4 linked regions of the Homo sapiens genome follow. The protein of the gene in region 1 purifies or fractionates together with the protein of each later gene. This does not show direct contact. Each region holds a gene or a part of one and is shown in the gene's direction. Other genes may lie near its edges. The genes, in order: BCAM, ATP11C, LAMA4 and TMEM11.

Region 1 (4,617 bases):
TGACCAGTGGATGTTTTAAAGAGGTCCCTCTAGCTGCTCAGTGGAGGATGGACAAGAGGGAGGAGCAGGCTAGTGAAGAGGTGGTTGGGACAGTCAAACCTGGGGCCAGAGGTGGCAGGAAGCCAGAGGATTTGTCCTGGGAGCAGACCAGATAAAGACTTGCTGAGGCCAGGAGCAGGGGCTCACGCCTGTGATCCTAGCACTTTTGGGAGGTCAAGACAGGAGGATCACTTGAGGCCAGGAGTTTGAGACCCAGCCTGGCCAACATAGCAACACCTTGTCTCTATTCAAAAACAAAACTTTGCAGAAAAGATGTTTGGGGGTAACAGGGAGGTTACCCCACAGGTTGGGGTTTGAGCAAAAGGTTTGTGTGCTAAAGTCACAGAAGGGACACCTTCCACACCTAAGGTTATTCATTAACCTTGGGCTCAGATGTCAGCTCTGAAGAAAAGTAATTGACTTGGGCATGTCAATGTTGGGGTTAGACTGCTAGATTTTTGGTTGGAGAGCCTGGATGGGAGAATGGAGATTTCATGGAGATGGGGTAAACCAGGAGGATTACTTGCTGTTCTCTGCTTCCAACTGTCCATTCATGTTTGCACCCCCGACCGCCCCTGGAGAGCCCCTAATTGAGTGGGTGGCGGTCTGGGACGAGTGACAGACTGTCCCCCACTGCAGATCTGGACCCCCTGGAGCTCAGCGAGGGGAAGGTGCTTTCCTTACCTCTAAACAGCAGTGCAGTCGTGAACTGCTCCGTGCACGGCCTGCCCACCCCTGCCCTACGCTGGACCAAGGTGAGAGGGAGAGGAGCCCCCTCGGGCCCTGCACTCGCACCCTCCTCTCTCCCCTCACTCCTCGCCCTCTCACAGCGTCCTCCTCCTCCTCTGCCCTTCCCAGGACTCCACTCCCCTGGGCGATGGCCCCATGCTGTCGCTCAGTTCTATCACCTTCGATTCCAATGGCACCTACGTATGTGAGGCCTCCCTGCCCACAGTCCCGGTCCTCAGCCGCACCCAGAACTTCACGCTGCTGGTCCAAGGTTCAGGGGGCAGGGAGGGGGTGGGCTTGGATGGGGACAGTGTGGGGTGTGGGACCTGGACAAACAGGACGAGTTCCTGAGTCCCTGGCTGGGGACTCCATCTTCTGCTCGATGCCTCTCTTCTCTCTCTCTCTCCTCTCCCTTCACTTTCTTCCCATCCCCACCACCCACAGGCTCGCCAGAGCTAAAGACAGCGGAAATAGAGCCCAAGGCAGATGGCAGCTGGAGGGAAGGAGACGAAGTCACACTCATCTGCTCTGCCCGCGGCCATCCAGACCCCAAACTCAGCTGGAGCCAATTGGGGGGCAGCGTAAGGGACCTTCCTCTCCACCCTGAGCCCCCTCTCACTCATCCAAGTATCACACCCTCCTTTCCACTTCCTGGGAGACTGGACGTCGTTCACCTCTGCCCTTGACCCCACCCCTTGACCCCACCAGCCGGGGCCTGATCGGAGCCTCCATAGCCCGCAGAGCCAATCCCCGGACGGCAGGGTTGGGTGAGCAGCTCTCTGACCCTGAAAGTGACCAGCGCCCTGAGCCGCGATGGCATCTCCTGTGAAGCCTCCAACCCCCACGGGAACAAGCGCCATGTCTTCCACTTCGGCACCGGTGAGTGACTGAGGTGGTGGCAGAGGAGCCGGGTGTGGGGCAGACAGAGCCCACTGCCTGACCCACGCCTCTCTCCATCCTGTCCCTGCAGTGAGCCCCCAGACCTCCCAGGCTGGAGTGGCCGTCATGGCCGTGGCCGTCAGCGTGGGCCTCCTGCTCCTCGTCGTTGCTGTCTTCTACTGCGTGAGACGCAAAGGGGGCCCCTGCTGCCGCCAGCGGCGGGAGAAGGGGGCTCCGTGAGTGGCCTGCTATCTGCAATGACCACCATAGCTTAACCCCATCCCCACCCTCAACCCCAAGCTCAACCCATAACCTCAACCACATCTTATCCTCCACCCCACATCCCACCACATCCACCTCCATCCCCAACCCATCCTCATCCCCAACTACAGCCCCAAACCCAGCCCCAGACTAATCCACAGCCATCCCCAACTCATCCTCATCCCCAACTGCAGCCCCAAACCCAACCCAGGGCCATCCCCAAACCCATCCCCAAGCCAAACTCAACACCATCCCCTTCCCTAATCACCTCTCCTGCCCCTAGCTCAGCCTCATCCCCAACTCCATGCCTGTCTCCAATCCCAACCCTGCCCCCAATCTCCCCTCAACTCCAATCCATAACCCCCTTCAAACCATCCTCAACTAAGCTCCTCTCCAGCCCTGGCCACATCCCCATCCTCCCCCAACCTCCAGCCCCAACACCCATCATCCCCCTGAGCTCACCCTTAACTCCAATTTATCCTCCAAGCCTATCTCTCACCATCCAGCCCTCACCTAGCCATTTCCCAACCCTAGTCCTCCACCGTCCCGAAGCCAACTTCACCCATGTCCCCATCCCCAATCTTGTCCCCATTCCTGACTCCAAATCCAACCCCTAAGCCTCCCCAAGCTCCTCCTCATCTAACCTTGTCTCCAGCCCCAACCACATGGCCGTCCTCACCTCCAATCCGTAACCATCCCAGACCGATCCCAAAGCCAACTCCAGCTACATTCCCACCTCCAACCCCAATAGCATCTGCATCCCCATGCCCAACCCTAACCCCAGTGCCATTACCAGCCCCTACCCCATCCCTATGCCATCCCCACCCAGCACACCCCCATCCTCACCTCCATCCCCAGCCGCATCCTAGTCCCACCCACCCCCATCCTCAGTTCCTCCCCCTGCCGTGTGCACCTCCAACACGACGCCTCCGCCCGCTGCCTCCTCCCCCCAGGCCGCCAGGGGAGCCAGGGCTGAGCCACTCGGGGTCGGAGCAACCAGAGCAGACCGGCCTTCTCATGGGAGGTGCCTCCGGAGGAGCCAGGGGTGGCAGCGGGGGCTTCGGAGACGAGGTGGGTGAGGGCCTGGGCCCCCTGGTGAGAGGGACCTGCTGGGCAGTGGAGCACGCCCGTGGGCACAGGCTGACCTCTCCATCCGCTCCCCAGTGCTGAGCCAAGAACCTCCTAGAGGCTGTCCCTGGACCTGGAGCTGCAGGCATCAGAGAACCAGCCCTGCTCACGCCATGCCCGCCCCCGCCTTCCCTCTTCCCTCTTCCCTCTCCCTGCCCAGCCCTCCCTTCCTTCCTCTGCCGGCAAGGCAGGGACCCACAGTGGCTGCCTGCCTCCGGGAGGGAAGGAGAGGGAGGGTGGGTGGGTGGGAGGGGGCCTTCCTCCAGGGAATGTGACTCTCCCAGGCCCCAGAATAGCTCCTGGACCCAAGCCCAAGGCCCAGCCTGGGACAAGGCTCCGAGGGTCGGCTGGCCGGAGCTATTTTTACCTCCCGCCTCCCCTGCTGGTCCCCCCACCTGACGTCTTGCTGCAGAGTCTGACACTGGATTCCCCCCCCTCACCCCGCCCCTGGTCCCACTCCTGCCCCCGCCCTACCTCCGCCCCACCCCATCATCTGTGGACACTGGAGTCTGGAATAAATGCTGTTTGTCACATCAACACCATCCTGTGGCCAGAGCTTCCTCTGGGAGTAGGGAGGGGAAGGGCGATGCAGGTGATTCCCTGCTCTCAGCTGCCCCCCCATCCGCCCCCTTGCAAGACCTCAGAAGACGCCTGATGTCATGGAGAAAGAAATGAGACAGGGCTGGGCGCCGTGGTTCATTCTTGTAATCCCAGTGGTGGTGGCTCACGCCCGTAATCCCAGCACTTTAAGAGGCTGACACTGGAGGGTGGCTTCAGGCCAGGAGTTCAAGACCAGCCTGGGCAACATATGGAGACCCCATCGCTACAAATAATAATACTAATAATACAGAAATTAGCCAGGTGTGCCTATAGTCCCAGCTATTCAGGAGGCTAAGGTGGGAGGATTCCTTGAGCCCAGGAATACGAGGTTACAGTGAGCTATGATCACGCCATTGCACTCCAGCCTGGGTGACAAAGCGAGACTTCATCTCTAAAAAAAAAGAAGAAAACAAAAAGAGGCCAAGCTCAGTGGCTCAAACCTGTAATCCCAGCACTTTGGGAGACCAAGGCAGGGGGATCACTTTAGGTCAGGAGTTTGAGACCAGCCTGGCCAACATGGTGAAACCCCATCTCTACTAAAAATACAAAAAATTAGCCAGGCATGGTGGCGCGAGCCTGTAATCCCAGCTACGTGGGAAACTGAGGAGGAGAAAATCTTGAACCCAGGAGGCAGAGGTTGCAGTGAGCCGATATCGCACCACTGCACTCCAGCCTGGGCGACAGAGCGAGACACTCCGTGAAAAGAAAAGAAAAAGAAATGACAGCATGAGAGCGAGTGAGCACGCAGAGGGCGACTTAGCTGGCCGGGGGTGGACGGAAAGATGCCAGGTCCCGAGGGTGCTGGGCTTGGCCCCCGAGGACCAGCGTCTGCCTGGAGATGGGTGCTGTCCCCTTAAGTAAAAGTTCCCAGTCTGTCTTGCCAGAGCCCCAGAGGGAATTGAAACTGGGCGAGGAAAAGCTCCCTCTTAGCTGTAGAGTCAATAGAATTAGGGATGGAGCCACCTCCTCTGGGGAGGAGTC
Region 2 (8,798 bases), on another chromosome or scaffold:
ATGCTATATTTGTGCCAGTGCTGCTACCGTGAAAAGCTTTGAAAAATAATTAGAAAGCAACTACTGCTGTAGTTCATCTCTTTCTCCCTTACATAATAAAAACCTTAATCTTGTCCTTATGCTTGTTCCTATCAGCCCATAATTTTAACTATTTAAGCATAAATTGCCAAAACGAGGATAAAATTGTGGGTTTCCAAAAGCCAGATGTTAAAAATAGAAGAGATAAAAACCGAGATAAAATAGAAATGCTCAAAATGATTTATCTTAGTGGCAAATTTATTTCTTGGCTTATATTTTCCATTATTTATGAAAATATACTTGTGTTATACTTTATCTGCTTTTTTTCTAAATTTGGAAACTTGAGTATTTTCAAAATATGTATAGTAAAAAGAAAGAAATTTCAGTTATGGTTTTGATCACTACTGACCTATACTGTATCTTCCAATTAGGTAACTGTTAATGTTGTTATTAATTCTTATGTATATTATATGATGTGGTGCATTTTATTTTAATTCAGTATTTTTATAGAAAATTTTACTTTTAAAAGGGGAAAAAAACCTTCATCAGTTTCTGTTTTATTTTGTTACATCCCATTTAATTTATTGGGAAAAAATTTTTAATGGGTAATGTACGTACTAGCCCACAAAGTGTAAGAGTGTGTGTGTGTGTGTGTGTGTGTGTGTGTGTGAGTGAGAGAGAGAGAGAGAAATAAGTGGTCAGTATAGTCTTACTTCCCACTTGAAAAATTGACTTATGTAACTTCTTTACATCAAACAGGTTAACTGGCTGGGCATGGTGGCTCATGCCTATAATCCCAACACTTTGGGAGGCCAAGGCTTGAGCCCAGGAGTATGGGACCAGCCTGGGCAACATAGTGAGATGCTGTCTCTACAAAAATTACAGAATAATTAGCCTGGTGTGGTGGTGCGTGCCTGTGGTCCCAGCTACTTGGGAGGCTGAGGTGGGAGGATTGCTTGAGCCAAGAAGTTTGAGGTTATAGTGAGCTATAATGGCTACTGCATTCCAGCCTGAGTGACAGAGTGAGACCCTATCTTAAAAAAGGTTAACTTAAATGAGAAGCGTTCTTAGTTTGATAAAATAGTCACTTTTTTTTTTTTTTCCTGAGACAGAGTCTCACTCTATCACCCAGGTTGGAGTATAGTGATGTGATCTCAGCTCACTGCAACCTTTGTCTCCTGGATTCAAGCAATTCTTGTGCCTCAGCCTCCCAAGTAGCTGGGATTTCAGGTGTGTGCCACCACACCCAGCTAATTTTTGTATTTCTAGTAGAGACGGGGTTTCACCATGTTGGCCAGGCTGGTCTTGAACTCCTGAGCTCAAGCAATCCTCCTGCCTCAGCCTCCCAAAGTGCTGGGACTACAGGCATAAGCCACCGTGCCTGGCCAATAGTCACATTTTTTTCTATTCATCTTTTACATTTGAGTAGATCTACCTTAGACATGTGATAGCATTTTGGTGTCTTTAAAAATACTCATTTATTCCTCATTTCTTTGGTAATATTGTCTCTGTAATTCCCTGACATTTGACAAGAAGTCTTAGAAGGGGTGATTTCCTATGGATATGAAAATAGCTTTGCGTTACAGCAAACTAAAAATTAGTCACACTGAAGAAACTAACAATATATGTTTGTGTCCTTGTTTTAGGTGGATTATGTATTTACAGATAAGACTGGAACACTCACTGAAAACAGCATGGAATTCATTGAATGCTGCATAGATGGCCACAAATATAAAGGTGTAACTCAAGAGGTTGATGGATTATCTCAAACTGATGGAACTTTAACATATTTTGACAAAGTAGATAAGGTGCATTTGCATTATTGTTTTATATAAGAAACCAATCTGTGTATGCATGTTAACATTCCATAGTAGAAAATAATTTTTAGGTGGACACATGACATAGACTTTTGTGTTTTTGTTTTTTTTTTTTGAGATGGAGTCTCACTCTGTTGCCCAGGCTGGAGTACGGTGGCATGATCTCAGCTCACTGCAACCTCCGCTTCCCAGGTTCAAGCGATTCTCCTGCCTCAGCCTCCCGAGTAGCTGGGATTACAGGCGCCTGCCACCATGCCTGGCTAATTTTTTTGTATTTTTAGTAGAAACGGAGTTTCACCATGTTGGTCAGGCTGGTCTCAAACTCCTGACCTCAGGTAATCCACCACCCTCCGTCCCCCAAAGTGCTGGGATTACAGGCATGAGCCACTGTGCCCAGTGACTTTAGAATAACTATTGTTGGATTCACCTTTCTTGTTTTACTGACACTTCTGAAATTTGTAAATGAGTAGAATTTACAAGTAAAGAGAATTGTGGGAAATGACATTTGGGTAAAAGCTTGCTTGTCTGTATGATCATAATTTTTTGTGCTTTGTCTTTTAAAATGTAAGCTCCTCCAAGAATGATGTCTGTTCAAATGATTAAAGTCTCAGGAGTGTCTAGGCATTAAATTAACCAGAGTCTCCCTACACTTGAGCTATTGCTAGATTGTGAATTAGATACTGAATGAAGTTTTTTAGGCCATGAAGAAGTCACTGCTTTGGCTTAGGTGGTGCCACAATAACCTTAATGAGTTAACACAGCCTATAGGGTATGCTAGCTGAGAACCAGGAACTCTTATTAGGTACTAGGAGAATATATAGCAGATTTGAGTGTTAAGAATTTATACGTATCTGCTACTAAGTTTGTTAGAAGTTACAACATTCTCTCACATTAATATATTTTCTCCGTTCACTGCCTAGTTACCGGGTGATCAAATTAAAAATAATAATCATTATTTTGTTGCTGTTCCACAGAATCGAGAAGAGCTGTTTCTACGTGCCTTGTGTTTATGTCATACTGTAGAAATCAAAACAAACGATGCTGTTGATGGAGCTACAGAATCAGCTGAATTAACCTATATCTCCTCTTCACCAGATGAAATAGCTTTGGTGAAAGGAGCTAAAAGGTAAAGTATACTTTCTTATACTTCTCCTAAGAAAGTGAAATCACAGGAGGACAGAAGTTATTTGTTTTTTTCCGTTTGCTTCAGTGACCTTAGCACATACATCTCCTATTATTTAATAAAAAACACAACTGCTTTAGCCAAAAATTTGTGGAAAATTCCCACACCTAACCAGTTAAGACTAAAAAGAAAATAGTTACAGGTAGGTATTACTTGCCTTACTATTTATGCATGCCAGCCAGAAGTCTGAATGTTCATACTATGTTTTGCAAATAACATAACAGTGGCCACTTTTTGTACAACACATGTTATTTCTGAGGTGCTCCCAGCAATTTTGACATCATTTGAGAACCGAAAGTCCAGTTTTACCCATGAGGTTCAAGATAATTAAGTGGCTCAAAGGTCACCCAGTGTGTTAGCCGTAGAATCAGAAACCCAAATTGTCTCTCCCTTGGTTACAATAATTGTGGCTGGGCATTGACTTTCTCTGTTATCAACTTATCCAGGAAAAGAAAGTACAGTTATATGTTGAGATCATATGAAAGAGAAGAAAAGCATAAACAAGCATGAGTTACCCCATTGAAAGTAATCATTCTAGACCAGGTGCGGTGGCTCACGCCTGTAATCCCAGCACTTTGGGAGGCCAAGGCGGGTGGATCACCTGAGGTCAGGAGTTCAAGACCAGCCTGGCCAACATGGTGAAACTCTGTCTCTACTAAAAATACAAAAATCAGCCGGGTGTGGTGACACACACCTGTAATCTCAGCTACTCAGGAGGTTGAGGCAGGAGAATCGCTTGAAACTGGGAGGTGAAGGTTGCAGTGAGCCGAGATCGCGCCACTGCACTCCAGCCTGGGCAACAGAGCGAGACTCTGTCTCAAAAAAAATAATAATAAAAAAATTAATCATTCTTTAGAGATACACAAGGTCTTTTTTATTGTTTTTGATAGGTACGGGTTCACATTTTTAGGAAATCGAAATGGATATATGAGAGTAGAGAACCAAAGAAAAGAAATAGAAGAGTAAGTAGCTCTGTGTTTGATGTTTGTCATTTCTTAACCCCATAGTCAAATTTAAGTGGATTCAGGCAGGGCAGCAAAGGAAATGATGCCACTAAAAATACAGGACCCTGCTCTCCCAGTTCAGAGTTTTATGTAAATATAGTTGGGGTAGAAGCCATGTTACATAGAATTGCAGAAACTGGAGTTTGAGGTGGAAATTCCAATCTGGTTCACATCTGGGTCCAGTAGCCAGAATGAGAGTTTGCCTGGAATGTTTCTCAAATTTAGATGCCATTTCAGGTCTCTAACACATGCTACAGGAAAAATCAGTGAATATATGTGAAACCTTCTGCTATCTAGTGTCCAAGCAATCACTCTGGGATTGCAAGCCCAGGCAATAAAGGCAGCTTTGCTGTAAACCAGAAGCCTTGTTTGGTTCGGAATGTTCAGGTGTGAGCCTCGGGGCAAGTACTCTGATGCTCCAGTGTCTTCACATTTCCTCTTTTGCCACAAAGACCCTAATGAACAAAGCCACCTTATCTTAATGGTGGATTTTAATTAGGCTCTGTGATTAATTTGAATTTCCTCATCTGAACTTGAAATATAATTATGTTATCTGACTTTCATTCTGGCCCCTAGGATCTCCTGAGACCCATCTCAGAAACCTGTAATATGTTTACAGGTACTTGGGTAATGCACCCTTTTGGAGAGAGATTCATAGAAGCCCAGAGGAAGGTTCTTGGTCTGACTGACAGGGACCCAGGGTCATTGTCAGAGTTTAGATTCTAGCCCATCTGCAACAGTGCCCACATCTGGCCAACAGCAAACCAGATGCCATGTTAGATGTCTTATACATATACTCCCGCAAGACTAATGACCCCCTCACTCCCACCAAAACAAGCTATGTAGTAAATACTTTTTTTAAAAAATACTAGTTGTTTATTTTCAAGGAAATATTTCCTCTCACTTTTTCTAATAACCAACTCTTATTTTAACTCTTCTGTGTCTCTCCATTGATTAGTTCAGCCATCCACACACACATTTGACCAGTCTCATCATGTCATTCCACTGTTTAAACCCTTTTATTGGCTTTCTTTTGCTCTTACAATACAATCCCAAATTCCAGAAATGGCTCACAAAGATGTGTTTCCAGCCCCTGCTTACCTTTCTTGCTTTATCTCTTACTATTCCCCTATTGATGAGTTTTTTGGGCATTGGTGAACTACTTAAAGTCTTCCATGGGCCATGTGCTCTCATGCTGCCGTGCTCATTCCCTCTACTCAGAATGCCATGGCCCCCTTTCTTCATCATATTACCCTTGCAGAACCCAGCTCAGGCATGTCCTCTTCCAGGAAACCTCCTTTCAGATGACTTCCTTCTGTGTTCTTATATCTTCCCTGTAAGTGCCTTTATTACAGTATTTGAGAAACTAGAAGGGTAGTTATCTCATTATGCTCTGTCTCCCTTATCATATGGTGACCCGCATAAGGGAAGGGACTCAGGCAGATTCACCTCTATTCCCCAGCACCTAGCACTGTGCCTGGCACTCCATACATAAATGCTGCTAAAATAATTGGCAGAGTGGGACTGTTTCTAGACCCCTCCAAATATGGCTTGGTGGGACAGCTCTTTATCTTCCATTTTTATGTGGTCATTCTCCTTACCATTTTAAGTAATATACTGAGGGGCTATAAATACCCCTTAACTAACACTGGTGTCCTCTGACAGCATGTTCTATGTTCAGAGAAATTCTGAGACAAAGGAAAGTACCAGTTGTGCACACAACCAGTGCTATCTGTTGATTTAAGATGTTTAAATATCTTAACATATTTCTGTTGTGCTTTATTTTTCTCAGTATATTCTAGGTTTTTTACTTTGCTCATTTCTCTTAAAGATATGAACTTCTTCACACCTTAAACTTTGATGCTGTCCGGCGACGTATGAGTGTAATTGTGAAGACTCAAGAAGGTACATGTCTGAAAAGCTTGAATTTTTCTCTTTGTTGATTTGTAGGCTTATTGGTTGATTCACTCTTTCAGGAAAGAGAATCATTTCATGTAGTAGTGTAGGATTAGTGAAAGTCATGCAAAGCAGTAGCTTTTGCATATGCTTTCATGTATTTTTTTAAGCACAGATGTTCTGTTTACCAAATTGTTAGTGACAGAACCCTTGTTATGACAGGGTGTGCCTTTTCTTGGTAGCAGAACCATATCCCTCTGCCTTGGGTGTTCGAACAGGAACTGAAAGGATGACTTTTATATGGTTCAGGGTACTGACCAGTCTACCAGTAATGTTTACATGCAGCCACCCAGCATAGTTGGATGGTTTGGGATTACTAGCAGCAGAATCCTTGAGTATAGGGAGTTGCTTGTTATCCCTCACTGACCTTCCTGGTTCCCCTACTGCTTGACACTCCCTGGAAACAGGTGAGGTAGAGAGGACTAAGGGCCTGGTTTCTGGGAAATGGCATTGCAGTTTCACTCCAGAGCTCAGGTTCTTTGTTGAGCAGAGTAAAGCTTGCCCTTTGCAGGGGAACTGGTACTGTAATCCTGGGCTCCCTCATGTCTTTGGAGGCACCATGGTGGTTTGCCTTCTGCTCAGATTCTGCAAGACCCATGGGCGAGCAATCCTGCTTTATTCGAAGGCTCTCAGATACGTGTGTGTGTGGTGTGCCGAGGTGGTTTGTTTTCTAAAAATTTTTGATTTATTTCCCAGTAATTTACGTTTTACTATTAAATTTTCTAAATTCCTTAATGTCAGAATGGGAGGATACAGACAGATCCTTGGGGGAACATATCCCACTTAATTCATACTTTGTGGTGTGATTGCAAAGTCATGAAATTGATTTTAATAAGTGACCATGGAGTTTGTTTTGTGAATTTTAAAATACACTTTGGATGTGTAAGAATAAATGAAAAAAAAAACACAACATTTCAAATACTTGCTATTCTTATGTGTGCATGTCCACATGTTCTACAGCAAATGGTGAAATGTCTGTGGAACTGGTCTACAAAGGTCATTGACCTCAGAGCTACACTTTTTAATTTGTTGACCTCGGTTGTTTCCCTTATAAGGATAAAGTGTCTGTCTTAGTGCACAACTGTGAATATTTCCTGGGTGTGTGAAGTGATCTAAAGCTGCAATTATACCAGCATTCTACAAAGCTATTCTCATCAGTAAAAACTATCAAGCCATTGTTTTAGAAGCTAGTTAATATAGTTTATTCAAAATTATTTCAGCTTGTTTGAGCTTGAGCTTTCTTCTTGACATCTGTAGATGCCATATGTGTGCTCTAGGCCATGGCTTCACTGCATTTTTTTTTTTTTAAGACACGGTATTACTCTGTCATCTAGGCTGGAGTGGCAAGATTATAGCTCACTGCAGCCTTGACATCCTGGGCTCAAGCAATCCTTCCACCTCAGCATCCAGCGTAGTTGGGTCTATAGGTGTGTACCACCATGCCTGGCTAATTTTTTAATTTTTAGTAGAGTCAGGGTCTCCCTGTGTTGCCCAGGCTGGTCTTGAACTCCTGAGCTTAAGTGATCCTCCCACTTCAGCCTCCCACAATGCTGGGATTACAGGCATGAGCCACTGCACCTGGCATACATTTTCAGAAGAAATTCAGATGCAGCTCCTTGACACAAGCCCAGCCCTCCATGAATTGGTGGGAGGAAGTATATTTTAACAGAGGTGCCTATTGTAAACTCTGGCTTATTAATTGTGTTCATAATGACCTTGAAGAGGTGGTACATGCCTTTCTGACAGACTGAAGGCCAAGATTTCTCATTCCATTTAGGTGAGTATTGCAAGGTGTGCTCAGAATATACAACACTTGGGTGAGAGAGACCGCTTTAAAAGTTACTCTTACTAAAACCACAATACCAGCCTTAAAATTCTAAGTCAAGTACTATGGTTCTTTATTTTAGGAGACATACTTCTCTTTTGTAAAGGAGCAGACTCGGCAGTTTTTCCCAGAGTGCAAAATCATGAAATTGAGTTAACTAAAGTCCATGTGGAACGTAATGCAATGGTGAGCCTATACTCCTTCCCCCACCAATAAGTAAGCAGAGAAATGTTGAAAATGACTATGTTTATTGGATTTCTGTTTAAATGACAGTTTAAATACATTTTAGCTTATTTTTGTGGTCTATGTTTTGTATTTGGGGATTTGATAATATTACTTTTTTTTATCTTAATATAAAACATTTTCCTGGAGCAAGTTTCAGGTCAGAATTTGCAGCCTTAAAAGACTTTTCAACAACCTTTGTTAAAAGAACTGTTACTTCCTTTTTCTGAACCTAATTGAATGTTACCTTTTCAGTTGTAATTTCTTCATTTTTTCAGACTAAATATGTGTCAGAATTTCTCTTGTCCATATGGCTAAAGCAAGAGTATTTACAGAGTGTGTTTTTTTTTTTTTCCAACTATTATTAGAATAACTACAGATCTCCTACTTTACTCCTAGGATGGGTATCGGACACTCTGTGTAGCCTTCAAAGAAATTGCTCCAGATGATTATGAAAGAATTAACAGACAGCTCATAGAGGCAAAAATGGCCTTACAAGACAGAGAAGAAAAAATGGAAAAAGTTTTCGATGATATTGAGACAAACATGAATTTAATTGGAGCCACTGCAGTTGAAGACAAGTAACTAGAAAATGATACTCTTATTATTTTAATGACCAGTGTTTTGGGTGTGATCTGCCCCAGATTAGTAATTTAATCTCGAAGTTTGAAATCTTTAGTTTTATTGTTTAAGTGGACTTAAAGATTTATTTATTATAGCAAGTATGAAAAATTACACCAGATTTTGAGCTGTTAGTAGGAATGATTTTTTTT
Region 3 (8,798 bases), on another chromosome or scaffold:
CGCAAGGACTGATTTTTGTCATGAATTCACTGTACAGCCTATGACCAGCACATAATCTATGCTCAGTAAATCCCACTTTCTCTGCTAAGATTTGCACAACTGACAAGTTACGCCATATCTAAATGATTTGGCATAAACACACTCGGGTCTAGAAAGATATTTCCACAAAGGGGTAGGTCTCCTTGACCTACTATTAGTTGCATTGTCTGTTCTGTGATGTCTGAGTAAAATATGACCATGAGACAAGTGGTTTTACTTTTTCTATTGCATAGCTCCCTACCAGCTTAAACCTGCCTGGCTTTGTTGGCTGCCTGGAACTGGCCACTTTGAATAATGATGTGATCAGCTTGTACAACTTTAAGCACATCTATAATATGGACCCCTCCACATCAGTGCCATGTGCCCGGTAAGAGACAGTTAAGAGTACTAAAGACTTGGATATTCATGCAAGAGCAGCAGATAGAACAAGTATGAGTCAATATTCAGGTTCTCAAACTTTTCTTTGGGGAAGCCAGTTTTGAAACTACATAAGTCATACCTGCAAAAAACTCTTCACCTGTTCTCTATCATAGATGAGCATGCCCAAGTATGAAGTGTTAAACAACTTGTTTGCAGCCTTGATTAAGGATTCCAGAGACTAGGGTGTCCCTGGAGACTTCAGTTGTCTTAGCACACAGGATACAGAAGAAAACAATCCATTTAACATACCTACAAATACCTCTTTATCTCTTCCTTGCAGACAACAGGACTTCATTTAAATGTTGTAAGGTCCACAGAAGATGTTAGAAGAATGGGTTAAAAGGGCTTCACTTGAAAAGCATAACAGAAACTGTAGTGTTCAAATGACCGTTGTGTTTCCATTTCAGAGATAAGCTGGCCTTCACTCAGAGTCGGGCTGCCAGTTACTTCTTCGATGGCTCCGGTTATGCCGTGGTGAGAGACATCACAAGGAGAGGGAAATTTGGTCAGGTGACTCGCTTTGACATAGAAGTTCGAACACCAGCTGACAACGGCCTTATTCTCCTGATGGTCAATGGAGTGAGTAAAAATACAAGTCCTACTACTTCTCCTTTATTTCCTTTACTTTCTGCTACTCATGTTTCCAGGAACCTTCCCAGGTCTAGTGTGTCATGCCATCAAACTGAAATTCTAGTTTAGAAAGTCAAATTGGATTTTCTTCTTCAGGAAAGTAATGACAGCAATAAATAAAAGCAACCCTGAGATGCATTTCCCCACAGTACATTTTTGGATATAAATAAACTAAGAGAACTTTGAGGAAATTAGAACCAAGATCTAGATGAGCAGGGTGTCTGCAGAAATTTTGCACTGGGCTCCTAACTTTTCCAAACCATATGCCCTAATCAATTTTAAAGCAAAGCTTGCATGCTTTGTATATATGTATGTGTGTATGTAAGTATATATGTATGTACACACACACACATATATATCTTTGTTTATAAATGATACATGTGTACTATAAACAGATATAAATATAGTATGAAACAGTCAAAGCTTGTAATAAAGGACAAATTATATAAAGATAAAATAAAAGATTATATATTTAAAATGAAGATTAAATTGACTTATTTATTAATGATACAGAAATGTTTTTCTCACTAAAATTATTTTTAATAGTACTTTATCTACTGTACAGCTCAAAGAAAATAGTTTTAGTGAGAAAATGTAATTAAGTATGCTAAATATTTTCAAAAATCCTTAAACTCTTTGTGACACAGTGATTCAAAAGTCTTGTCCTAAGTCCAGTTTATTTCAACAGTAATTTTATTGGTGGTTGTAACTAGACAAGACACCTCACAAAAATAAAAAATGAAAGAACCATATCATTAGCTGTGCCTACTAACTCAAATAGTTTTCAATCACATTCACCAAGTGGCAAAGGTTGTCTTTGAGATTTGATTGGTGTATTTCCTTTTTTCTAATATTAGTTCTTGTAAGCTAACCAGGTATCATTTTGTAAACTTTAATAAAAGGGTTCAAAGCTATTGAAAATCTTTATTTGAAATATTTTTCTAAAGGTTAGAAATTTCTTCCCTCAAATGTTTTAATAGAGCTGATAGGAGAGTTTTTGTAGGATTGCATTTACATTGTTCCCATCAACAAAAGCAACAATAGAAAAATTCCCAAACATATTTTTTAAAAACCATCTCTCCACAGTATAACCGTCCTCAAAAAAAAGGAGAAAAAGTTACTTTCTCATCCATTATTATGATAATACCCTTACATTGATGTGACAGTATGTTTCTTTTTTGAAATAACTAGTAGGATTCATACTACTGTCAGACATTTGTCATCACGAATAAAGTTCAACAAATTTAGAATAATTCATGTTACAAAGAAAAATGTGTAACCCTCTATAAACTTAACAGCATTTTCAGAAATTTGTAGGAAGTAGCCAGCAAATATCTGTGTGTCTCAAAATGTTTTCACATCACTCTACATCTCAATACAAAATGAGTGTAAATATTCTATTATTTCGGTTATATCAGCCTTAAATCCATATAACTAGCCACACGTAAACTGCAATAAATTGCAATAGGCTAGAAGCAAAGAAATGGATGAGGAGCTACCTTCAACTCTTCAAGTGTGGAACCCCTCTTGGGAAGCCACACATATTATGTGAATTTTGTGAAAGTCTGACAAAAGGATAAAATGAAGGCCCAGAGTCAATAATTCATGTGTTAAATATTAAAAGTTAGTTTCTTTCTCTATTTTAGATTTTTTAGTGAGTATAAATGGATGTTGAAATATTTTCTTCTCTATTTCAGGTTTTTTTAAATTAGTATAAATAGAAGTTGAAATATTTTCTTCCTAAACTCCAGTAGGCTGCTTTCCACACTCCCAGGAATGTACAAACTCCACTCAGGAGATCACTTCCTATAGAATAGGGACCTTGCCACAATGCTTTATTTTTCAAATCCATTGACTTCTTGTATCTATGAACTATCTTCTGAAACAAGCAAAACTCCAGTAAATTATTTGAGTGTTACAAAATTTCTTTGATTCTTAAACATCATGTGTTCCAAGTGCATAATAATTCTATATTTATTTACATAAATCCAGTGTTTCAAAACAATACAGCAATGGCCTTCTTTTTTTAAATCCATATTTGCTGATAATATGGAAGAATTCTTTTCAGTATACCTTGAAATTATTTTTTAATTTTACTAATTTTCACCTAAAATAAATGCAGACACATCTGTTGGCCTGTTATAATTTTTAAAAGTTTCCTAAAGACAAGGCAGTTGAATAAACATGGTATACTATACTCTATTTTCAAGATTTTCTTAAAAGGCAATAATGTAGACTTAAAACTTCATCCATTAGTTCAGAAAGTAGAATGAAAACAGAAGAATTTTTACACTGTGTATAAATATTAACTTTTATGTATTAATAAGAGAAATAGCTGCTGATATGGAAGTAGTTGTCACTTTTTTTTTTTTTTTTTGAGACAGAGTCTCGTTCTGTAGCCCAGGCTGGAGTGCAGTGTCACGATCTCGGCTCACTGTAACTTCCACCTCCCGGGTTCAAGCGATTCTCTTGCCTCAGCCCCCTGAGTAGCTGGGATTACAGGTGCCTACCACCACGCCTGGCTAGTTTTTGTATTTTTAGTAGAGATAAGGTTTTGCCATGTTGGCCAGGCTGGTCTCAAACTCCTGGCCTCAAGTGATCCACCTGCCTCGGCCTCCCAGAGTGCTGGGATTACAGGTGTGAGCCACCACTCCCAGACACTGTCACTTTTATTTCATAAGAATTTCATGAGACTTTCTTAGTCTTCAAATAGTTCCAGTAATAAAGAATACAGTCTTATTTCTCAAATTCAGCTAAATCTGACTCTACTCGCATAACAGATGTTCCTATCTTACAATTCCTTTCTCTCCTCAGAGTATGTTTTTCAGACTGGAAATGCGCAATGGTTACCTACATGTGTTCTATGATTTTGGATTCAGCGGTGGCCCTGTGCATCTTGAAGATACGTTAAAGAAAGCTCAAATTAATGATGCAAAATACCATGAGGTACAAATCATTGTAGTTTGGTTGGTTTTGTTTTTGTTCTTTATACTTAGATCTGTTGATCTAATCAGGCAGTCAAATGAGACAGGCAGGATGGTAAATAAACTGAGAACTTTCATATCTAAAGAGCAACTGAAGGACCCTCATCTTCTCAACCCTAGGAAAACATTTACTTTAAAACATTGGATGTATTTTTCCTGTTGATGTTCCAATTTAAAAGTCACTGAAAGATTCCTTTTAATTGCTTAATTAACCAGAAGGCTTCTATTAATCTTAAATATCTCAATTGGTATTCCTACAGGATACTTCTATACATTTGTTGAATGAGCCAGAGTGTAGATACACAGCCTTTTTTTGCTTATCCTTTGAGCCCCACCAAATTTAACAAGAATACATATAAGTAAATACAGAATTTCCTTTTAAACCACTTATCCAGAATTTAGAAAATACTAGCACAGTTTTCCTTATAAAGAGAACTCACAAAGAATCCCCTTTAGTTTTGAAACAGATGTGCAGACTACTGAAAATATACTTCATCCATTTTCATTAACTATTTTAAATATACAACTTAATAAAGTGTATACAAGGCATAATATCTTTTAAGTTGAACCAAAATGCGAAGGGTAGGAGACTGTATTTCCCTTTTCAGTTCAAAGTCCATAGCCTCATGAGAATGGTTTACAATAAAAGAATATTTTAACTATTTCTCTGACTAGCATTTTTGCAGATTCATTAGAACTGCTCACTGTGTCACCAAAAAAATTACACCTGGTAACATGCAATCTAGATTCCAGAAGGCACCTGCTTGGGAATACAATAGGGGTCACCAGGGGTTAGGGGATAGGGAAATAAGAAATTGCTGTTCAATGTGTATACAGTTTCAGTTGTGCTAGGTGAGTAAGTTCTCGAAATCTGCTGTACAGCATGGAGCCTATAGTTAAAACTAATTTAAAATTTATTTAGGATAGATCTCATGTTAAGTGTGCGTAACACACATGCTCACACACACACACACACCACAAAGGGACACAAGGAAATGCTGGGAAATGTGTGATATGTCTCTTACCTTGATTGTAAGATGATATGAGTGTTTGCATATGTCCAAGCTCATCAAATTGTATACATAAAATATGTGTAGTTCTTTGTATGTCAACTAGACTTGAATAAAGTTGTTTTTTTAAAAAAAAAGAGAATGGTGGCACCTGTTTATAGTTCTTTCCTGAATCCTCTCAGAAGGAGCAGGAGGAAACAATAGGTCTAATCGCAAAATTTTTCTTGGGCTGGCTCCTCTTCATACAGACCTCCTTTCCCAGAAAGTGTGAACTGCTGCTTGTAGAAGCAAGAGTTTTCAAGTCTGTGAGAAAAGAAAATCTATCTATTCCCCATTTTGTGAACAAACAAGCACAAAGGCATGGAAGAACAGCTAGTATACCAGGAGAATTAAAATATATAGAAGTCATCAAAGAACTGAATATTAAATAGTTAATCAAGGCTTACTATATATTATCTCTCCCAGATCTCAATCATTTACCACAATGATAAGAAAATGATCTTGGTAGTTGACAGAAGGCATGTCAAGAGCATGGATAATGAAAAGATGAAAATACCTTTTACAGATATATACATTGGAGGAGCTCCTCCAGAAATCTTACAATCCAGGTAAGGCTTTTTGTTAAGTAGCTGTTTGTTCCTAGCAATGTACTGGGCTGGCAACATCCAGGAGAGGTCTAGTAACAGTGTACGCACCCTTACTTGCTACTTTTACACACAGGGACAGGCACAGGTACACACATTCATGTACCTTCAGGCCCTCTGCAGTCAGTCCTCAGGACCTCCTGAAATTAGCATCGCATAGATGTAATCACAGATTTCTTCAATTATTGTATTACTCTTAGAACATGATCTAATGCAGTATTTCTCATCAATAATAGGAACGGTGGAACATGTGTATTGTGTGAAGACAAAACAGCATTTGTCCATTTACTTTTGCTTTAGCCTTAAACCCATTTTGAACTCTCCAATAGCATCTGAGCTACACAAATTTTTAAGGTTATCCAAAGGGTTGTGTATTATGTATAATGAAACATTAAGACACTCCCCTAAACTTTGTTGATTACAGATGTGTTGGAAATAATGCCAAAATGGATTCATTAATGACGTGGATTAATAAAAGTCTGAAGACCTGTGTTCAAATCCTAACATCACTTGTGACATAAGAGAATAATTTATTTCTTAGTTTCATTTCTTAGTTTCATTACGTTAAACCCTGTGAAATTACTAAGAATTGATTATATTTCTGTGTAACATGTTAGTTCCTATGATTCAACCTAATAATCGTCTGCTAAAGGGAAATCATAGCATCTCCATCTATTTCACTGAATTGTTATAAAGATAAAATGAGATAATGTAAGTTAGAGCATTTTGAAAACTGTAAGGAAGAAATTGGCTTGACGTAGAACAAAACTCTTCTATAGGCAAAGATTAGACATTGCTGTGTGCCTATCAAAGAAAGCATGAGAATATGAATGATTATAAAGCCATTACAAATGACTATAAATAAATGCAAATTCCATAGCCTACATATGCAGGGTAACATCATCATCATGGCTGTATCAGTGAGGCTGACTTTCTTTTCCAGGGCCCTCAGAGCACACCTTCCCCTAGATATCAACTTCAGAGGATGCATGAAGGGCTTCCAGTTCCAAAAGAAGGACTTCAATTTACTGGAGCAGACAGAAACCCTGGGAGTTGGTTATGGATGCCCAGAAGACTCACTTGTAAGAACCACTCAGTCAAAAGCTTTTTAATAGACACAATACTTATCACTCTCAAAAGCTGGAAAAGTTCTTTTCAGCTTCTCTCTGATCCTAGGTACACCTTGGGTTCCTTTCTGCCACCACCAGAAAGAAGAACCATTAAGCTAGAAGGGCTCTTGTGCATGGGGTTCCTCTGTGACTTGTTCGTTTGCTTCAGTTTTCCATGGGTGGGGCATCTAACACCCAGAGAGGGTGTGCTAGCATCATTGTTCACTCAGGTTGGAGTCAGTGGAGAAGATGAAACCCCATCTCTCAGAGGAGCTCCTAGTGTATGCCTGAATTCCAACATAGACCAGAAGTGGGAAAATAAACTATTTACGTAGAAATTAACAGGCAAGGCCTTCCGTATGTGAAACATTGATAGTTTTAAGCATTTGATAATTCTCAAAAACACTATCTCCACTTGTTCTGGCACACAGATATCTCGCAGAGCATATTTCAATGGACAGAGCTTCATTGCTTCAATTCAGAAAATATCTTTCTTTGATGGCTTTGAAGGAGGTTTTAATTTCCGAACATTACAACCAAATGGGTTACTATTCTATTATGCTTCAGGGGTAAGTGTTTGTTTTTCTCTGAGGAAACTTCTTTGTGATAATTGTTTTGCCTATTAAAAATAATTTGTAATGCATGTTAGAAGTGATTTTCTATTCAGATTAATTTTGACTCACACGTAGACACACAGAATGCCTCATTTCAAACACTTTATAAAATATTCTATGTATTGTATATCAGAAGTTCCTAACCTGGAATTCATAGACCCACCCCCAAGGGTTCATGGATAGAATTCAGGGGGGTCTGTGGACTTAATGCGAAAAGATTACATCTTTATTTTCTCTCACTGAAATTGATCATTTTCTTTGATTATGACTCTAGGCAACACACCACAGTAGTATTACCAGTACCTGTGACTTTGTCATTAATAGAAATCACAGATTTTTTTGTTTCACATTACAATTGTCACAGAAATCTCAGAATGTCATTTTTGCTCATTGCTACTTCTAATGTTATTAGGTCTGCTATGGAATCTTATTCTTTAATGCCTTAATAAAAAAGTTATAATAATATCACAGATTATTTTAATATTTTGAAAACTGTATTTCAGTATGATTGGTTTCCTTTGTATTATTATATGTTTTGTTTTATACATTTAAAAACATTATTTTGTGAAGCGGTCGCTATCTGTTACCAAAATGCCAAAGGTGTTTCTGGCACAAAAATTCTCAAGAGTCCCTGTTTGTATGCAATGAACAAACACATTTGTGATTTAATTTATAAAAGAGTAAAAAGAACATACATACTTCTCTTAGATTTGCTACAGAGCATTTGAGCTCAGCTTATAAAGATACGTTATTTCAAGAATAAACTAAGGTCTGTAGAGGATTGGTGACTGTAAGATCCAACTGATGGGTCTCTGAAAAGGTCATCATCAATATATACACTGATGTGCCAGGTCATCACATAACTTCTGAAAGCAGCTTTCACTTTTCATATATATTACCTGCATCTGACACATTTATATCCAATTTAATTGGAATCAGTAGAATTTGTGAGAATTTACCCAAAGCATTTTGTAGAACTTCTGACCCAAACCTGCCTCAGACTACCCTGGTTAGTTAAATAACACTTTTTGCCCATAAAAAGTAGTCTATTTTGAGGGCAGACTTAAGAAGTTGGTGCCCATATAAGGAAAGAGAAGCAAGATTAACCCTTGCCAAATATTTTAAGACAAGCAATAAGCAAATTCAGATAAGAAGAGCTAACTTGCTTTTAAAAATGTCTCTTCTGCCTCTAGATGAAAAAGTGAAAGATTTTAAAAAGCCAAACTAGTAAATTAACCCTTGCCTAGTCATCTAGCTACATCCCCAAGGAGACCCAAATATCATCTATTCGAAGGGATTAAAAGTGAGATTGAAAGTAGGAAAGTAACTGAGACTGGGTTGACAACTC
Region 4 (8,506 bases), on another chromosome or scaffold:
GCTAGTGTTGCCAGGGGATTCCTTTGCTGACTGCGAGAGCTGATTGAGTTGGGCTCAAAAGTGGAGAGATGAGGGCCTGAAGGCTGACTCTGGTTGAAGGCTGAGGGAGGAAGTTCAAGATGCCCACTTTATGAGTGCCTGCAAGCTATCCTGAGGCGGCAGAGAGCGGTCCCATTCAGTGTCTGCAGCAGTCCCCCTGAGGTGCTGGAACGGGCTGACCCCTGCTCCCAGCACTAAAGGCTCAGAGAATCCAAAGCTTCCTCAGTGCTGGCATGATGTGTTTAGGATCATGACACTGATCCTTTTACTTTTCTTCTTCCATATGTTAAGACCCACTTCCGACAGTGATCTTTAAGTACCAGAGATCATGCCAGATTCAAAAGGATCAAAAGTCATTTACTAGAAAGAGCCTCCCTTCCTTTTCTTTCCTGAGCCCCTCAGTTCCCTCCCTAGTGACCAGTCATAAAAATCAGGTCTTTGTGTATCCTTTCAGAAGTGTTCTGTGCATATAAAAGCAAATAGAGACTTTTAAAAATACACTACGTATAGCATACTGTAAACACTCTTCTGAACCCTGCCTTTTCCCCTGAACTTGCTTTCAGTTGGAGACTTTGCTGTTACTGCTGCTACCTTTTTCTCTTTTTTTTTTTTTTTTTTTTTTTTATTGAGACGGAGTTTTACTTGTTGCCCACGCTGGAGTGCAATGGCATGATCTCAGCTCACTGCAACCTCCGCCTCCTGCGTTCAAGCAATTCTTCTGCCTCAGGCTCCCAAGTAGCTGGGATTACAGGCACGTGCCACCAAACCCAGCTAATTTTTGTATTTGTAGCAGAGACAGGGTTTCACCGTGTTAGCCAGGCTGGTCTCGAACTCCTGATCTCAGGTGATCCGCCTGCCTTGGCCTCCCAAAGTGCTGGGATTACAGGCATGAGCCACTGCACCTGGCCACTTTTTCTTTCTTTTTTTTTTTTTTTTTAAACATAGACTCTATTAATTGCTCTCTTACTGGTCATTTCACACCTGCAATGAAAAGCAAAAATACAGTCCCTTAGGAAGCCCAGGGCTCAAAAGATTCCAACTAGCTCTTACTTAAAAAAAAAAAAAAAAGTCCATATAATTTAAAAAAAAAAAAAAAAAGGAAAAAAAAAGATCTCCCATGCACCAGGGTTCAGATCACCCAGTTCCTAAAGCCCATGGCCTTACCAGTTAGGGGGCAGCTGGTGATGCTCTGCAGTGGTTTGAGATAACCTTCTGACTGGGTTCTTTCCTTCATTAGGTTTTGTTTGACCCACAAGCAGAAGCAAGCCATATACGGGTGGCTGCTGGGTGGTCAGGAGCTGGCTGGACGTGGCTGTCTCCTGGGAGTACTTGGCAGTTTCTTTTTTCTTTTTTTTTCTTTTTTTTCTTTCTGTCATTCAGGCTGGAGTGCAGTGGCACAATCTTGGCTCACTGCAACCTCTGCCTCCCAGGTTCAAGTGATTCTTGTGCCTCAGCCTGCTGAGTAGCTGTAATTACAGGTGTGCAGCACCGCGCCTGGCTAATTTTTGGTAAAGACGGTTTCACCTTGTTGGCCAGGCTGGTCTCGAACTCCTGACATCAAGTGATCTGCACACCTTTGCCTCCCAAAGTGCTGGGATTACAGGCGTGAGCCACCGCACCTGGTCATGGCCACGAATTTCTGAAGTAAGAGAAGTGCAGCAGTCCCTGTCAGCAGTGCAGACCTGAACCCAAGGGCCCAGCAGTGGCAGCTAAAAAACCTGTGTCTGCACTGACAGCACCCCACTCCCACCAGTGTACCAGGAAGTTGGAGTGCTGACTGCCTGGTCGTGGCCGGGTGAGCTCCAACGGAGGGATCCTGCGGCTTTGGGTGCGTCTGTGTGTGTTTTGGTTTGAACCTTACCGTCTCCATATAGGGTCTGTTGCCTTATAGAATCCTAGAAATCCACTTCCCTAGACTTCACGTGTTGTCCTTTCCCAGTGGAAACCGAGATTCCCTTTGCCTAACTGGCTTTAAAAGCAGAATTGGTGAGCCTCTGGCCTCAGCGCCGTTGTGCAGGACCCTGCCTTTGTTTGAAGGCAGTGTGGCTTATGTCCTTTGTGTTTCTGCTGTGGATAGGTGTCTTAGACAGTGGGCAGCAACAGTGCCCAGCCCATATGAAGACGCCGAGGCTGCAGGAGGCCGGGGCCATGGTTTGACAGGCAGGTGGGGGCAGACCCACGCCACCATCTCAGGATGTGTGCTGGCGAGTGCCCCCATGTCCACGTGCTTGCTTATGGCTGTGTCATTCACAGGACTGCCCACAGCCGAGGGCAGAGGATGCCCAGTCTCCTCACTCCCTGTGCTGGGGGGCGGGCCACACCTGGCAACAGCAGTGAGGTGGGAGGGAGCCTGGAGGGCCTTGGCTTCTCGCTGCTTCCAGGCTGGTTGGGACTCGTGGACGCACCCACCCATCCGTCCCAGCAAGCGATGGAGCCTGCAGAGGGGTCTGGGTGGATGTGGGTGCCAGCTGGGCTTGCAGGGGGGCCGGAGGGGGTGAGGGGGTGGGATCTGCCCACTGCTGTGTTTCCAGATGGGGCAGTCGGTTCCAGGACCGGGGTTTCCACTGGAATTTCCTCTGTGGGACCAACAGTGGTTTTCACTACATTCAGGATGGCGCTGGCCTGCTGGGCAGAGAAAGGTACCGCACTAGGGTGGATTTGGGTGTTGGCGAGAACATTGTGTAACCCCAGCTTGACACCTCCCTTTTGCTTTGAGTGTTCCTGAGGGAGGAAGCCCGCCTCTGGTGCCCGCCCCAAGGTGTCCCTGGCCTGGCTTTGACAGTCAGTAGGATGCACAGCTGACTTGGAAGCAACTCCATTTCCGTCTCAAGATTGGGACACGATTTGGTCCTCCACCCCTACCTTGTTATCTGGCCTCTCTGCTCCTGTTGCCTGATGGACTTGAGACCAGAAGGGAGTTCTCTTGGCCAGGAGTGCTCCCACCTGAGAGTGGAGGCCCCGCCCCTCCCCGCACACCCAGGGCCACAGCCAGCCCATTGCGCCACCGCCACTCATTTCTCATCTGAGCACGTGGGGGCACTGCTCGGCCTTCAGCTTTCCAGCGCCAGTGAAGACCCTGCTTTGGGTGTGCTTGTTTGCTGTAGGTAGCTTCTAAAATGCTGCATCTGGCTGGATGCGGTAGCTCATGCCTGTTAATCCCAGGACTTTGGGAGGCCAAGGCGGGTGGAACACTTGAGCCCAGGAGTTCGAGACCAGCCTGGGCAACATGGCATAACCCCATCTGTACAACAAAATTTTTTTAATTAGCCAGGCAGCCAGGCGTGGTGGCACATACCTGTAGTCCCAGCTACTCGGGAGGCAGAGGTGGGAGGATCTCTTGAACCCGGGAGGTCGAGGCTGCCATCAGCAGAGATCACACCACTGCACTCCTGCCTGGGTGACAGAGCAGGAACCTGTCTCAAAAATAAAAACTGTTGAATCCTACCTGGAAGTAACAGCTGGCCTCTCCCTTACCTCTCCTCTAAGACCAAATGGAAAAACTCCACCGAGAACTTTAGAAGGAAAACCCTCCTTTCCCCATTTCATAAGCTGCTCGTGCAGTCTTACAGTAACAGCTCATCATTTCATCCCTGGCGAGGCAGCCGTGACACTGGCACAGTCACAGGTGGCTTGGCAGCAACCCATGTTTAGGAGGCTCTTGTCCCACCCTCAGGGCACTGATTTCTCCCCAGTGCATGCCGTTTAATTAGGGCCTATGATTGAATTAGGAGGCTTTGCCTTAGCCTGGCTTAGTTACAGTGACTTTTTCAGGATAAAGAGTTCCGTTTGCCCAAGTCCAAGCCAGTGCCTTTTATGAAAGTGGTTCCCACCCAGGGGCGGGGTTAGGGTCCCCATGCTTGGGGGCACAGTCAGCCCATTACCAATGACTTTCATCTTTAATGTGGCCACATGAGATCGTTAACTAGTTGTTTATCCAACCAGAATGCAACCCTGCCTGTTAGGTTTGCTTATTTGTTTGCTGAAAGCTTTGAGCTGGGAGGAGTCTCAGTAGTAGGAAGAACTACGATTGCCTGTTCTTTTTCCTTGAAGTTTCCCGACAGTCCGATTTCCACCATCCTTCACTTGGAATTGCTCCCATCTTTGAAGGAGGCTGGAGGGAGTTACCTTCATGCTGGGCTGAGGTTCTGGGGTGGCTTGTTATGAATGTCTTCACTCGTCACTCCCATATTACGGCCAATGGCCAGGTGGCTCAGCTCCCCATGACTCTCCTCTGCACCGCAGCCAGGTGTGCCTGCCAGGACAGGCTGGGCGGACGGGACCTTCGCGTCTGTGCACACTGAGGGCTGTGCTTCTCGTTAGCCATGAAAGGAAGCTAGTTCCTGTCAGGCACATTCGGAGCTTCAGGTACATGGGCCACATTGACCCTTGTGTTGCCTGGTACAGTGTTCCAGAGCCTCCCAGTTGGAAGGGCATGGACTCCAGCAGGGGAGCAGTGACCAGCAGGTCCCTGGAGCCTTGTGTCCTTTAGTCAGATGGGTCCGACCATCCTGGGGACCAGGGTGTGCTGAGGGAAGGGGCAGCTTTTCCCTGAGGCATGTGACAGAACATGGCTCTGTGCAGCCTTGGGAGCCATGAGTTGGAAAACTTGATCCAGCCTCAAGAGCTATGTCTAGCAGTGTCCCCGTCAAGGCCCAGATAAAGACTTCTTGCAGATGAGCAGATAACGGAAAACTAGGATGTGGGGTGACGGTGCGGAGATTCAGAGAGATCTGTCTCAGCTGAAACCAGCCAAGGAAAGATGACAAGGCATGGATAGCCCTGTCTTCAGGCCTGCCCGCCACAGGTGAAGAAGATTCTGCTTTGGGTGGGAAATTTGTACCGCAGAGGCCTGAAACCAAGAAAAGCAAGACTGCCTGAAATGCAGCTTGGCCCACGGTCACTGCTGGGGCTGCAGCCGGGCTGCCGTCTGGCCTTGCTGCAGAGCTGAGCGTTCCGTGTGGTGGATTACTCTCCTGCTGGTTGGGGTCATGACATGCATCCCCAGTCCCGGGGGGGAAAGCCCCTTGTGTGGTCTCCGTGGCAGTGTTTCTTATGCAAATGAGTGGCATTTGCCGGTGGTGCAGGGGCCTGGGCCTACAGGGCCAGAATTGGTGGCATTGCTGGGCTGGATGTTTTGAAGCCCCTCAGTTGACCCTCCTGCTTACTAAATTTGGAGCCCACTACTGTTCTTGAAGCGTTGTCTTTTCCTAATTCAAGGAAAGGGTCGCTTTTCCTATGCAGTGGGCTAGTGTCCTGGGTCTCCTCTTCTCCCCTCCGCAGCGGGGAGGAGCTGGGGGCTGCTGCCGGCCCAGGAAGGGCACCCAGGGCTTGTGCAGCCTGGCCTCCAGGAGAGCCAAAGGAGTTTGGATTTCATTCGCCCAAGGCAAAGCTCTTCCTTTCTGCCTCTGTTCTGCAGGCCCAGGATGACTACTTAGGAAACGTGCGGAGGGCAAGGGCTTAGCATTATCTGTCCTGAGGTCTGTGGTTTCCAGTGAAGAATCCTCTTGCAGTTGCCCTGATTAACTAAGAATGGCTTTCAGGCTGTTGGCCCTCTGCTGCCGTGTGTGCTCCTGTGATTCTGTGCCGAATCGTTCTTTCCCCTTTAGGCTCCTTTGCTGACTCAGATCAGTTGGTCCACAGCCTTAGGCTAACCACCAGGCCTGTGTTTGTCATGTTAAACGTCGAGGCACTGCTTTTCCTGCCTTTTTATATCTTTTTTTTTTTTTTTTTTCTGAGACTGAGTCTCGCCCTGTCACCCAGGCTGGAGTGCAATGGCACGATCTCGGCTCACTGCAAGCTCCGCCTCCCAGGTTCAAGTGATTCTCCTGCCTCAGCCTCCCGAGTAGATTACAGGGATTATAGGCATGCGCCACCACACCTGGCTAATTTTTTTTTGTATCTTTAGTAGAGACAGGGTTTCACCATGTTGGCCAGGCTGGTCTCTAACTCCTGACCTCATGATCCGCCCCCCCGGCCTCCCAAAGTGCTAGGATTACAGGTGTGAGCCACCACACCCAGCTTTATTTCACTATTTTCAGGAAAAATCCTTTTTACTGATTATCTTGTGTTGGGATTTAAAGGAGATGAGGACCCAAGTGAGATGTGCTCTCCGCAGTGCAGGCTCAGACCTCCCCCAGCGCTGAAACACAGTTAAGTGCTCCTCAGCCTAATCATCCTGTCTCTCTCTCTCTCTCCCTTTCCTGCCCCCTCCATCAAAAGGGTGAGCTTGTCGGCCACAGACTGCTACATTGTGCATGAGATCTACAATGGGGAGAATGCCCAAGACCAGTTTGAGTACGAGCTGGAGCAGGCCCTGGAAGCCCAGTACAAGTACATTGTGATTGAGCCCACTCGCATTGGCGACGAGACAGCCCGCTGGATCACCGTGGGCAACTGCCTGCACAAGACGGCCGTGCTGGCGGGCACCGCCTGCCTCTTCACCCCGTTGGCGCTGCCCTTAGATTATTCCCACTACATTTCCCTGCCCGCTGGTGTGCTGAGCCTGGCCTGCTGCACCCTCTATGGGATCTCCTGGCAGTTTGACCCTTGCTGCAAGTACCAAGTGGAGTACGACGCCTATAAACTGTCGCGCCTGCCTCTGCACACACTCACCTCCTCCACCCCGGTGGTGCTGGTCCGGAAGGACGACCTGCACAGAAAGAGACTGCACAACACGATAGCACTGGCCGCCCTGGTGTACTGTGTAAAGAAGATTTACGAACTCTATGCCGTATGATTTCAGTAGAACAGGGAGCGAAGCAAAACCACCCGGCCCACAAGAGACAACAGAGTATTCAGATCGCCACACTCTGTGAGGCAGCAGAGCCTGGGCAGGTGTTTGGCTTAGTATTTGTTATTTTTAAAAAATAACAGATCACGGGTGTACCCAGGGTTTTTCAGCTCATTACACTAAGATGTGGATTTCCATAACCCAAGAGGGGGGTCTGAGGCTGTGGAAGTCCGACTGGGCAGTGGAATGCTGATGGAGGCAGACGCTGCCGAGGGGGTGTGGACGTGCTTTGGGGGAGGTCTTTAAGTCTATTGTTTAACTGTACCATCCAGAGCCCACCAGAAGCTATTGATCATTAAAATTATGAGAATTTCAACTCCCGCTGTTCTCTCTTTCCATGACTGCCCGCAGCTGCTGCTGCACATCTGCTCTGGGTGGCGGCTTGCACATGGAAGGAGCAGGTGCCATGGTAGCCACCCTGCCCTGCTCCTAGCTGCGGCCCAGTGTTACCACTTACAGCGACGACAAGCCTAGATCCAAGGTAGTCCTGGGGCCAAACCCCGCCCAGGAGCAGTCTCCTGGCTCACCTTGGCCTCATCATTCCGAAGGCCATCACTGCCACCATGCTGTTCAGGAACATGGTAGGATAAGGTGACGAGGCTTGGAGGCCTTTGGGTGTCCACTTGAGTTCACGTGGGGAACTCTGGGCTCCAGGATCGCTCTTCAGAGATCTGAACACCTGTGTTTTCTTTGAAGCACCAAAACTCTTCCTACTGTGGACCATGAGTTTATTAACCCATTGCCCTAGGCTGACAGAAGAGCCCTCGGAGCAATCTTGGAAGCACCCCCTGGCCTCAGTGCTCGCTGTTCCACAGGAGCCAAGCCGGTGCTTCTCCCTCACACCAGAAGGTAGACTGTGTCACCTGCCACATTTCCTCTAAGGCAGGGGTGGCCAATCTTGACTTCCCTGTGCCACATTGGAAAAAGAATTGTCTTGGACCACACATAAAATACACTAACGACAGCTGATGAGCTAAAAAAAAAAAAAAATCACAAAAAAATAATGTTTCAAGAAAGTTTACAAATTTGTGTTGGGCCACATTCAAAGCCATCGTGGGCTGCATGAGGCCCATGGGCTGCTGATTGGTGATTGGACAAGCTTGCTCTAAGGCTTTGGGTAAATGGGAAATTCTCTCTTCCACAAAAAGGCTGGGGTGCCTGTCTTCACTTCTGCCTTCCTAAAGCCCCATTCATCCCTGAAGAGCCACATGGCACCTCCTTCTGAAGGCCAGTCTTTTGTTTTGTTTTGTTTTGTTTTTGAGACAGAGTCTTGCTGTCACCCAGGACGGAGTGCAGTGATGTGATCTCAGCTCACTGCAACCTCCACCTCCCGAGTACAAGTGATTCTCCTGCCTCAGCCCCGAGTAGCTGGGACTATAGCTGTGTGCTACCATACCTGGATACTTTTTGTATTTTTAGTATAGATGGGATTTCGCCTTGCTGGCCAGGCTGGTCTCTAACTCCTGGCCTCAAGTGATCTGCCCGGTTCGGCCTCCCAAAGTGTTGGGATTACAGGCGTGAGCTGCCGTGCCTGGCCAGGCCAATATTTAAGAGACAGCCAAAGTGGTTTCTCACCTAGTTTTAAAGTCCCCATCAGGAAGACCTGATGTCACAGAGTAATGAAAGGGTGCATGGGAAGGATTCACGAGGGGTGATTGGGCCATTTTTTGTAGGGGA

What was found.
Region 2: the proteins of BCAM (region 1) and ATP11C purify together in Homo sapiens (affinity purification with mass spectrometry; 2 studies listed by BioGRID and IntAct, with this or other methods). This does not show direct contact.
Region 3: the proteins of BCAM (region 1) and LAMA4 purify together in Homo sapiens (affinity purification with mass spectrometry; 2 studies listed by BioGRID and IntAct, with this or other methods). This does not show direct contact.
Region 4: the proteins of BCAM (region 1) and TMEM11 purify together in Homo sapiens (affinity purification with mass spectrometry; 2 studies listed by BioGRID and IntAct, with this or other methods). This does not show direct contact.

What each region holds. Positions count from the first base shown.
Region 1 is NC_000019.10:44,817,844-44,822,460, forward strand, and holds the end of BCAM (basal cell adhesion molecule isoform 1 precursor), read left to right. Parts: intron 1-678; coding exon 679-794; intron 795-897; coding exon 898-1,039; intron 1,040-1,212; coding exon 1,213-1,349; intron 1,350-1,502; coding exon 1,503-1,647; intron 1,648-1,738; coding exon 1,739-1,883; coding exon of another isoform or gene 1,884-1,887; exon of another isoform or gene 1,888-2,861; coding exon 2,862-2,979; intron 2,980-3,072; coding exon 3,073-3,078; 3' UTR 3,079-3,578; downstream 3,579-4,617. UniProt on the Homo sapiens protein: Transmembrane glycoprotein that functions as both a receptor and an adhesion molecule playing a crucial role in cell adhesion, motility, migration and invasion.
Region 2 is NC_000023.11:139,782,355-139,791,152, reverse strand, and holds part of ATP11C (phospholipid-transporting ATPase IG), read left to right. Parts: intron 1-1,664; coding exon 1,665-1,826; intron 1,827-2,809; coding exon 2,810-2,961; intron 2,962-3,908; coding exon 3,909-3,980; intron 3,981-5,853; coding exon 5,854-5,927; intron 5,928-7,885; coding exon 7,886-7,989; intron 7,990-8,424; coding exon 8,425-8,606; intron 8,607-8,798. UniProt on the Homo sapiens protein: Catalytic component of a P4-ATPase flippase complex which catalyzes the hydrolysis of ATP coupled to the transport of aminophospholipids, phosphatidylserines (PS) and phosphatidylethanolamines (PE), from the outer to the inner leaflet of the plasma membrane.
Region 3 is NC_000006.12:112,131,360-112,140,157, reverse strand, and holds part of LAMA4 (laminin subunit alpha-4 isoform 1 precursor), read left to right. Parts: intron 1-272; coding exon 273-406; intron 407-866; coding exon 867-1,038; intron 1,039-3,903; coding exon 3,904-4,035; intron 4,036-5,548; coding exon 5,549-5,691; intron 5,692-6,670; coding exon 6,671-6,809; intron 6,810-7,267; coding exon 7,268-7,405; intron 7,406-8,798. UniProt on the Homo sapiens protein: Binding to cells via a high affinity receptor, laminin is thought to mediate the attachment, migration and organization of cells into tissues during embryonic development by interacting with other extracellular matrix components.
Region 4 is NC_000017.11:21,196,593-21,205,098, reverse strand, and holds the end of TMEM11 (transmembrane protein 11, mitochondrial), read left to right. Parts: intron 1-6,258; coding exon 6,259-6,775; 3' UTR 6,776-7,145; downstream 7,146-8,506. UniProt on the Homo sapiens protein: Plays a role in mitochondrial morphogenesis.